2 separate regions of the Homo sapiens genome follow, and region 1 is linked to region 2. The links come from fine-mapping of genetic effects on gene expression. A gene starts in region 2. The other region holds a variant in brackets. All regions are shown on one strand. Distances are between the middles of the regions.

Region 1 (5,383 bases), 33 kb before region 2:
GTATAGACTCATGGGTATTTATTCTATTCTGAGGGTTATAATTTATTATTATTTATTTTGTGGCACCAATTGTTCCAACTTTGGCCCTTGGGAACTCTTTCTAGTATCCTTCTGACATACCCACATCTTCACATTTTTTTAGCATTTTCTTACTTTCTGGCGCTATGAGATGCTCTAGGTTCAGCTTATATTTTCCCTGTCCCAACCCCAGAATCAGTCATTTCTCCAACAGGCTCTGGTTCCTTTACCTGGAGAATAGTATTTGGAAACCACAATTAGAGTGCTAGGTATACTTGTTCCTAGGAGTGTCAAAGCTCACTATACTTGACTTACCTAAAGGGTAAGTTACAAATTCACACAAATAAACAACTCTTTCCCTATTTTTTCTTCTCCACTCAGTTAAATGTTTAAGGGACAAACCATATGTAATAACACTTTGAAAAATACTGTCCTTTTGGCACTCTCAGAACATCTCCTACAGTAACTTTTCATCTTAAAAAGAAAGAAAGAAAGAAAGAAAAGTCCCTGGGATCTACCTAGTAGTTCTAATGCAGGCATTTTTAGCACCTATAGGTAAAGACTATGCTGAAGGCATTGTACTGGCTGACAAAATAATACTCAAGAAACTTCATTTTATAAAAACAGCTAAAACATCTTTCTAAACTGAAAATACCAGCATAGAGATAGCAGCAATTGATCTGACAGAACCAGACTTTAGCATTTTTATAAAATACGAGCTCAAACAATTTCTTTTACCATTAAAACATTAGCGACACTTTTCTTAGGGTAAATCTCACCTCTCTCGTATACACACATCATGTTCCCACCATCCCCCCCTAAAAAAATCTAATGCAATGATCTAAAAATTATTCTTAGACTATGAGTTTCTGGAAGGCAGGGAGACTCCTTTGAAATCCTCGGCATTATAGTGGATTACAGTGCTGGGTAAGCCAAACGCAGGACCTTATAAATCCCCACTGAAAGGAAAGTAGCAAAATAACATTGCCCTTTGAATGCCTTGTCCGCTCTAAACACCAACTGTAAAAGCTTCCTATCTGGCTTCTTCCTGTAACTTATTTCTTTACTTACTTATCCGTACCCCCTGCCCACCAACCCCCATCCCACGATTTCCTATTGCCTTTATGGAGCAAAGCACAATTATATGCTCTAGCCCAAGATTTGCAATTAAGTATTCTTTAAAAAATGCAATATATTTTCAAAGTCACCCTCAAAAATAGGGACTTTGCTTTATAGTCTCCAGCTCTCAAAGAAGACAGTTACCAGTGGGTATCCATGACACCTGATGTGCTGGGCCAGTTTATTTTCTTATTTTAATGCCTACCTTTAAAACAACCTAGGTTACGTGAGTGCATAGTTAGACTTACGTCCCAGTGTTCTACGACAATAGCTGTATTTCAACAAATGACTAATAAGTTGGGTTGCCTTTGTCTTGTGGATGCTGAGGCACTTCAGTCACAGATGCTCAATGCTACCTTACTGACCCACTTTCTTCCTAGCTGAGACAACTGACTTACTGTTTAAAACTACAGGCTAGGAAAGCCATAAACTTGTTGCATATATATTTTAAACAATGGCAACAAAATGAACTGGATGCTAACTAATGAGATACCAAAATAAACAAAGAAAAAACAATCCTTAAGTTAGGCCAGTCAGCAGAATACACAAGGAAATAAAAAAATATGCTAGTAAGGAAATCTAATGACAGACAATAAGCCACACTCAAAACTGATAAATTGGGAGACTTCTTTAAATAAAAGGCTTTCCCATCAAAACAATGTCAATTCTCAATTCAAAGTAGCTGCACAATTACTGAGAGTACACATGGCACCAAATACAATACAGAAAAGGTGAACCCAGGCAATGATTTTCCAAGCATGATCTGAAAGTTATGAAGATCCTCTAGAACTTGAGTCTTGTTTAAAATGTGAGTGCTGATGTCTGGATTAAGTTCTGAGCCAGAAAAAGGCAAAAAATGGAAGCAATAGGGAGAGCTTTATTATTAAAGTGAGCTTAGTGCTGAAAAGTATCAACTGCCATATGAGAACAGTGGGTCTTGTTATCACAGTGCTGGCCGCTGGCCTGCCACTGACAACTTGAATAACCAGATTTTAAGGTTGGCTGGCTCTTGCCCAAGGTAAGAGAAGCTGCCTCCAAACAAGTGGAAAACATATATTGGAGAGTGGAGAATATTTACGGCAGGGGTGTCCAATCTTTTGGCCTCCCTGGGCCGCATTGGAAGAACTGTCTTGGGCCACACATAAAATATACTAAGAACAGCTGATGAGCTTAAAAAAAAAAAAAATCACACAAAAGAATCTCATATTTTGGCCGGGCGCGGTGGCTCACGCCTGTAATCCCAGCACTTTGGGAGGCCGAGGCGGGTGGATCACGAGGTCAGGAGATCGAGACCATCCTGGCTAACACGGTGAAACCCCGTCTCTACTAAAAATACAAAAAATTAGCCGGGCGAGGTGGCGGGCGCCTGTAGTCCCAGCTACTCGGGAGGCTGAGGCAGGAGAATGGTGTGAACCCCAGGGGGCAGAGCCTGCAGTGAGCCGAGATTGCGCCACTGCACTCCAGCCTGGGCGACAGCGAGACTCCGTCTCAAAAAAAAAAAAAAAA[A/AAAAAG]AAAAGAATCTCATATTTTAAGGAAGTTTACAAATTTTTGTTGGGCTGCATTCAAAGCCATCCTTGGCTGCATGCAGTCCATGGGCCATGGTTTGGACAAGCCTGACTTAGGACATATGAAAACGGGGATAGATTGTCTGTAGCTATACCTGCAGTGAAAAGTTAAAGAACCTATGGCCTAAAACAACGGTCCCCAGCCTTTCTGGCACGAGGGACCAGTTTTGTGGAAGACAATTTTTCCAAAGACAGAGGGTGGGGGGTGGATTGGGGATGGTTTCAGGATGATTCAGCACATTACACTTACTGTGTACTTTATATTACTATTACATTGTAATATATAAAATAATTGTACAATGCACCATAATGTAGAATCAGTAGGAGCCCTGAGCTGTTTTCCTGCAACTAGACAGTCCCATCTTGGGATGATGGGAGACAGTGACAGATAATCAGGCATTAGATTCTCATAAGAAGCACACAACCTAAATCCCTCACGTGCACAGTTCACAATAGGGTTCACGCTCCTATGAGAATCTAATGCTGCTGCTGATCTGACAGGAGGCGGAGCTCACAGGTAGTAAGGCAGGCAATAGGGAATGTGTAAATACAGATGAAGCCATGCTTGCTCGCTGCTCCCCGCCTCCCCATCCCCGCTCCCCCCTGGGGTTCCTAACAGGCTAAGGAACTGTACCAGGTACCAGTCTGTGCCCAGGGGTTAAGAACCCCTGGTCTAAAACAGATTTGGAAAATGTCAAAGTCCAGAGGAAATCCCAGGTAAAGGATAAGGTGAATTTAAATGACAGCTTTCCTACAAACTTAAGCTACCATAATTTGATCATTGGCATTGTGATTTCCTTGGTTATAATACAATATTATAAAAATTAATAAATTTTTAAATATTCAAAATTATAAATTTGTAGTCTATATGGGTAATTTTTATATTCAAGATACAGGTTCTCATCTTTGACACTCGAAATAGGCATGTTCCCATCCTTGACCCTCATTATAGGTAAGGGTTTCAACATTTAAACCAAAACAAAATTATTTGAGATTTCTCTTTCTTTTTTCTTTTTTGAGACCGAGTTTTGCTCTTGTTGCCCAGGCTGGAGCGCAATGGTGTGATCTCAACTCACTGCAACCTCCACCTCGGGGGTTCAAGCAATTCTCCTGCCTCAGCCTCCCGAGTAGCTGGGATTACAGGCATGCACCATCACACCCGGCTAATTTTTGTATTTTTAGTAGAGACAGGGTTTCATCATATTGGCCAGGCTAGTCGTGAACTCCTGACTTCAGTTGATCCACCTGCCTCAGCTTCCCAAAGTGCTGCAATTACAGGCGTGAGCCACCATGCCCAGCCTGAGATCTCTCTTTCAACTGCTCCTCAGAATCCAACTGAATTATTTCTACCAATAAGGATGAGAGGATTTACCACTGTTTCTCATGTCTAAGGCATCTACTGAGGACTAAGACAAGCTTAAATAGAAGCAAGATACAATCGTCTTTTAGTTGGTGTTTTACCAGATTAGTATATACTGAAATACTTTTTTTTTTTAAATAAAAAGGGAAAACAGAATTAACCATCTACCAAAGCTAAGTTAACAAAATGAAGAACAACAAAGACTATCCAATATCGGTCTTAGAGTCCTTCAAGTGTTCATTTAGAAAATTGCACAAAGTAAAAGATTTACATAATTTTCAAATTAGTAACTTACTGATTATAATGGTAGTCTTCACATTTGTGTTTTAAGTGTTTTAATGACATAAAAGCTTATATTTGAGTACAGATGGTCTTTTGTCATCAAGGCCACACATTACAAGTCTGAAGAAGCATGTGAGCTCTCTCTAAAATTTTTTGAAAGAAAACAAACAAAAAATCAGTGCCCAAGAGTACACTCAGCACTGGCTCAAAATATCATCTGCCTTTTTCTTGCTCTCTCTCACATCTCAACTATCCTAGACTCAAACAATATTTTTTTATACAAATTCAGACTTCATATTTAGAGGATGTGTAGTGTACTGGTGGAGTGAGACTCATATGTTCAAATTCTCATTCTGCCACTAATGAGCAGAATGACTAAGATAAACTATTAGGTTGATGCAAAAGTAACTGCATTTTTTACTATTACTTTCAATGGCATAAACATACTTAGTCTCTATGTTCCTCATTTCTAAAATGGTAACAGTAACGGTATATGTGTAAAAGGCTGTCATAAGAAGACTTCATCTATATAAAGCATATAGAGCTCAGTAAGTGCCTTATTCAGTGTTAGTTGATATTAATATATCATCATTAATGTTATTAAATTTTATCTTCTACTTAGCCTAATGTTCCCTTATGCAATGATCTTTTTCCATCCTAATTCAGTCAACGAATTAGTTATCCTCTCTTTTCTTGCCACTCGTAAGTTCAAAAACTTGCCATGTGATTATCATAGAAGCCAACATCATCCAAGCTAAACAGCCTACAATCAAATCTACAATGTCACTAATGTCAATTCACTCACTAATAATCTTTGGGTATTCCTTTGCAGTACAAAGCATATGCAATTAGATAAAGCCTCACAATGTTACTGGAGAAAAATGTAGTAAAAATATTTACATACACATTTCATTTTTCAGGAAGAGAAATGGAGTCTCAAAGGCTAAATGATATCTGTATGTGACACCAGCATTTTAATGCTTTTATTTTTCAACTAATAAGCAAGTTAACTTGCCCTATATGTTTTAGAGGAAATTCAAGGAC
Region 2 (5,383 bases):
AGTGATTCATAGATAGTGATTCCTCTAATGGATCTGAGCAAAGTAGATTAAAAACCTTCTAGAAAGGAGGTTTTGATTCACTATTCAAGATACCATTAAGAACATTCATGATTTATGGAAGGAGGTCAAAAGATCAACATTAACAGGAGTTTGAAAGAAGAAATTCCAACCCTCATAGACGATTTTGAGGAATTCAAGACTTCAGTGGAGGAAGTCACCTCAGATGTAGTAGAAACTGCAAGAGAACTACAATTAGAAGTGGAGGGGCCAGGCGCAGTGGCTCACGCCTATAATCCCAACACTTTGGGAGGCTGAGGTGGGTGGATCACGAGGTCAGGCGATCGAGACCATCCTGGCTAACATGGTGAAACCCCATCTCTACTAAAAATACAAAAAAATCAGCCGGGCGTGGTGGTGGGCGCCTGTAGTCCCAGCTACTAGGGAGGCTGAGGCAGGAGAACGGCGTGAACCTGGGAGGCAGAGCTTGCAATGAGCCAAGATCGAGCCACTGCACTCCAGCCTGGGCAACAGAGCAAGACTCCATCTCAAAAAAAAAAAAAAAAAAAGAAGTGGAGCCACAAGATGTGACTTGCTGCAATCTCATGGTAAACCTTTAATGGATGAGAAGTGGCTTCTTATGGATGAGGAAAGAAAGTGCTTTTTTGAGAAGGAATCTACTCCTGGTGAAGATGCTGTGAACACTGTTGAAATGACAACAAAGGATTTATAATATTATATAAACTTAGTTGATAAAGTAGCCTCGACTTCCTGGGCTCAAGGAATCCTCCTGCCTCAGCCTCCCATGCTTCTAGGACCACAGGCATTCCACCACGCCTGGCTAATTTTATTTTTTTTGTAGAGACGGGGGTCTCACTTTGTTGCCCAGGCAGGTCTCAAACTCCTGGGCTCAAGCAATCCTCTTGCCTCTGCCTCTCAAAGTGCTAAGATTAGGCTGGGTGCAGTGGCTCACGCTTGTAATCTCAGCACTTTTCGGAGGCCAAGGAGGATGGATCACTTGAGGTCAGGAGTTCGAGATAAGCCTGGCCAACATGGTGAAACCTTGTCTCTACTAAAAATACAAAAATTAGCCAGGCATGGTGGCGGGCACCTGTAGTACCAGCTGCTCGGGAGGCTGAGGCAGGAGAATCACCTCAACCTGGGAGGTGGAGGTTGCAATGAGCCAAGATCACGCCATTGCACTCCAGCCTGAGCAACAGAGACTCTGTCTCAACAAATTAAAAAAAAAAATAAATAAAGTGCCCAGATTATAGGTGTGAGCTACCCTGCTCAGCCTAAAGTATTTTTTAATCAAGGTATGTAAGTTGTTTTTTAAGACATAATGGTATTGCACACTTACTAGACTATGGTATAATGTAAAAATAACTTTTTTGCCCCATAGGATCTGCAGGAAAACATACTTTTACATGCAACGGAAAACCAAAAAAAAAATAATTGTGTGACTTGCTTTACTGCAGTGGTCTGTAACTGAACCCACAAGAGCTCCAAGGTATCCCCAGATCTAGAATCCAACTACTTCTCACCATCCCTTGGGCTTCACCCTGGTCCAAGTCTCCAATATCTCTTGTTTAGAAAAGTAACTACAATAGCTTCCTAACCGGTTTCCCTTTCAGTCAGTTCTCACCAACAGACACATTAATCCTCTTAAAACGTAAATCAGGTCATGTCAATCCGCTGTACTACCCACCTCACAACAGTAAAAGTCAAAGTCCCACGATCTACAAAGACATACCAGGTCTTACCCTCCTCCCCCATCTTCTACAATTATACTCCAGACTCAGTCCTCTGTAGCCACACTGGTTCCCATTCTGATGTATAGCTTCTAAGCCTCAAGACCTTTGCACTTGCAGTTCCTTCTGCCCGTACCCCTATTCTCCCAGTTGTATGCATGGCTGTGATCTCTCACCTCCCTAAAGTCTTCGCTCATATGTCACCTTCCTTATGACTAACAATGACATTTAAAACTGCACTACCTGGCCCGGCGTGGTGGCTCATGCCTGTAATCCCAACACTTTGGGAGGCTGAGGCGGGCGGATGCCTGAGCTCAGGAGTTAGAGACAGGCCTGTCCAACACGGGGCAACCCCCTTTCTACTAAAAATATAAAAAATTAGCCGGGTGTGGTGGCGTGGGCCTGTAGTCCCAGCTACTCAGGAGTTTGAGGCATGAGAATTGCTTGAACTCGGGAGGCAGAGGTTGCAGTGAGCCTCTCTGCAGAGACTGCATAGGCTGGAGTGAAGTAGATCGCGCTACTCTTCACTCCAGCCTGGGCGACAGAGCGACACTCTGTCTCCAAAAAAAAAGAAAAAAAGAAAATCCTGCACTACTTACCATTCTTCTTTGTTTTATCTCTCTCCATGCCACTCAACCTTCTAATGCACAATATTTTATTTTGCTTATTGTCTGTCTTCCTACACAAGAGAGATAATATTAAGCTCCATAATATTTTTTGTATGTTCTGCTCACTGCTATATACCCAGATTCTGGTACATAGTCGGAATTCAATAAATAACTGCTAAATGGAATTAACAGTCAACAGGAAAACATTCTAGTCAGACATATTTTGAGAACAAAGGATTTACAATATTATATAAACTTAGTTGATAAAGCAGCCTCGACTTCCTGGGTTCAAGGAATCCTCCTGCCTCAGCCTCCCATGCATCTGCGACCACAGGCATGCCACCATGCCTGGCTAATTTTATTTTTTTTGTAGAGACGGGGGTCTCACTTTGCTTTGAGATGCTAATGACCAGACTCCAAGAGTGCAGAGGCAAGGCAGAGTAGAGAGAGGAAGCAGAGAAAGGGGAGAGGAAAGAACGGGGGAAAAAGGTAAAGGGGTCGACTCACGTGGAAAAATAGCCTACCTGCAGGGTTGAAGGACTTCTGATGCCGAGGAAACCTATCAGAAGACTGTCTCCAATACCACGATGTGGAAGCATGGAAATTCCAAGGCTGGCCGCTGGGTTGAGGCTGAGAATCAAGGGGAGACTGGGCGTCGAAGGGGGGTTGCGCCCCGGGAAGAATCTGGGCGTCGAAGGGGGGCGGAGCCCCGGGGAGAGACTGGGCCTCCATGGGGGGCTGCGACTCAGAGGAAGGCTTTGACCCGGCTGCGGGAAGCGAGGACGTAAGTGGTGGTGGCGGTGGCGGCAGCATTGCCCAGAACATCCAGCTGTCCCGCGGCGGGGCAGTGTCGCTCAGGGGCCCTAACGTGGGAGTCAGCTCGGGAGACGCATGCCACCCGATAGGAGTCTCGAAATCACTAGTCGGCTCAGCCATACCACTGGCGGGTCCGGAGTCTAGCACGCGACTGTGGAGCAAGCATTAGGCGTCACTTCCTTTACCGTGAACTACAAGGCTCAGCCAACCACAGGCTTTACGTCATTTCTCGGCGCCGGGAAACCTGCCATTCTTCGCTGCTGATCGCGGGATTCTTTTTGGATAGGGTTGACGTTCGTGGATAGACTCATATCTGTGACCAGTGTCCGCCACCGCGGATGGCAAGAGACCTGATCGGACCGGCCCTGCCGCCCGGCTTCAAGGCCCGCGGAACAGCGGAGGACGAAGAGCGGGACCCGAGCCCTGGTAAGCGGCGGCGTCTCCGCTGCCCACCAGGCCCATCTACCCACTCCCTGGCCGGGCCCTGCTCGCTGAAGAAAGTCGGAGGCCTAGGAGGGCGGAGGAGTGGGGAGTGGGCGCGGCCTGACCCGAGAGAACTTTTCTCTTCCCAAACAGTAGCAGGGGGGAGGAGGCTGGGGGACCCTCCTAGAAACGAGCTTTGGCGTGGTTTGGCTTCGTGATGATAATACATTCTCATTTAGCCTTAATATGAGCTGCACGCTGCCCTAACTGACTGATACCCACTCAGTCATTTAAGCCGTATAAGAAAAAAACTATTTTCCCATGTTGCAAATGGGTACGCCCAAGCCCATGCCAGTGTCTAGATCATACTGCTAGCAAGTGATGGAGCGCGACTTAGAAGGAAGCGGTTCTCTTAACCTCTGTGCCATATTGCCTTCTGATTACAAGAACCTTGCAGATCCTGTTCTCTCCAGCCCCCGACCTGCCTTCCTAGCCTCTCATTCTGTTATTGCATCTGACAAACACAGCCCAATACTCAATCCAGTCTGAGTTGCTGCGCAATTCCTTAACGCTCTAGGCTTCTGGGCTTCCTCTGGTTGCATTCCTAAACATAACTGACAAACTTCTCCCCATCCTTCAAGGCCCAACTTAAATGTCACACCAATAAAACCTTTCCAGATTCCCCGAAGCATTGTCATGCCTTTCTTTTTGCCCTCGGGTTTTTTCCTAATTACATTGCATATTTAGTACACTGTATTTGAATAATTTGTCGACATAATCTGTCTCCACCATTGCACTATGGTCTTCTACCTGAACACGCAACAGGCACTTGGTATATACGAAACGAATGCTTCTCGGATTCCGGCATGCATACCTATCTGCTTTAATGTTTATTCACATTTGTAGACTAGCACCGACACCCAGTTGGAGAAGAGTAAAGCTGAAAGAGTAACCCTGCCATTTCTGAATCTAATTTTTCTTCCTGGTCTACCCGGAGGCTATGTTTCTACTACAGGCCCCTTTCCAATATAATTTCTGTCATAACCACTTTAAAAATTATGCCTTCCAGCTGAGCGAGGTGGCACAAGCCTGTAATCTCAGCACTTTGAGAGGCTGAGACGGGGCGGATCACTTGAACTCAGGAGTTCAAGACCAGCCTGGCCAACATGTTGAAACCCCATCTCTACTAAAAATACAAAAATTAGCCGGGCGTGGTGGCGGGCGCCTGTAATCCCAGCTGCTCTGGAGGCTGAGGCAGGAGAATCGCTTGAACCCAGGAGGCGGAGGTTGCAGTGAGCCGAGAGTGCCACTGCGCTCCAGCCTGGGCGACGGAACGAGAGTTTGTCTCAATAAATAAATAAATAAAAGTAAATGTGAAAAATTATGCTTTCCTTCCTGTAGGAGATAGCTTTAAAAAAATAAAATAAGGCCAGGTGCGGTGGCTCACGCCTGTGAACCCAGCGCTTTGGGAGGCCGAGGCGGGCGGATCACGAGGTCGAGAGATCGAGACCATTCTGGCCAACATGGTGAAACCCTGTCTCTACTAAAAATACAAAAATTAGCCAGGCATGGTGGCACGTACCTGTAGTCCCAGCTACTTGGGAGGCTGAGGCAGGAGAATTGCTTGAACCTGGGAGGCGGAGGTTGCGGTGAGCCGAGATCGCGCCACTGCACTCCAGCCTGGCGACAGAGTGAGACTCTGTCTCAAAAAAAAAAAAGAAAAAGATTCTTCGTATATATTTGTTGAATGACTTCTCTTCGTCAAGCACAATATCTTACACGTAGTGT

Which allele goes with the higher level. Positions count from the first base shown, and alleles are read on the strand shown. Sizes are in standard deviations (SD) of each study's normalised expression.
For the expression in prefrontal cortex of the gene that starts at base 3,327 in region 2, allele A in region 1 goes with a higher level than allele AAAAAG (large effect, 1.1 SD a copy in BrainSeq).

The links. PIP is the estimated chance that this variant, and not a neighbour inherited with it, causes the effect.
Region 1: its variant is fine-mapped to the expression of NUFIP1 in prefrontal cortex (BrainSeq, PIP 0.95).

The regions. Positions count from the first base shown.
Region 1 is chr13:44,953,515-44,958,897 of GRCh38, forward strand. The region is part of intron 7 of NUFIP1 (nuclear FMR1 interacting protein 1); the gene reads right to left. Among named protein-coding and RNA genes, the nearest start is that of NUFIP1, 33 kb to the right of the region's middle. The variant A/AAAAAG (reference allele first, on the strand shown) is at 2,644.
Region 2 is chr13:44,986,145-44,991,527 of GRCh38, forward strand. NUFIP1 (nuclear FMR1 interacting protein 1) reads right to left here and starts at 3,327. Exons shown (of 10, transcript NM_012345.3): 1 at 2,881-3,327. The coding sequence starts at 3,292. It overlaps GPALPP1 (GPALPP motifs containing 1), which reads left to right and starts at 3,394. Exons shown (of 8, transcript NM_018559.5): 1 at 3,394-3,598. The coding sequence starts at 3,511. RefSeq lists enhancers at 2,865-3,503, 3,128-3,197, 3,388-3,577, 3,504-4,140.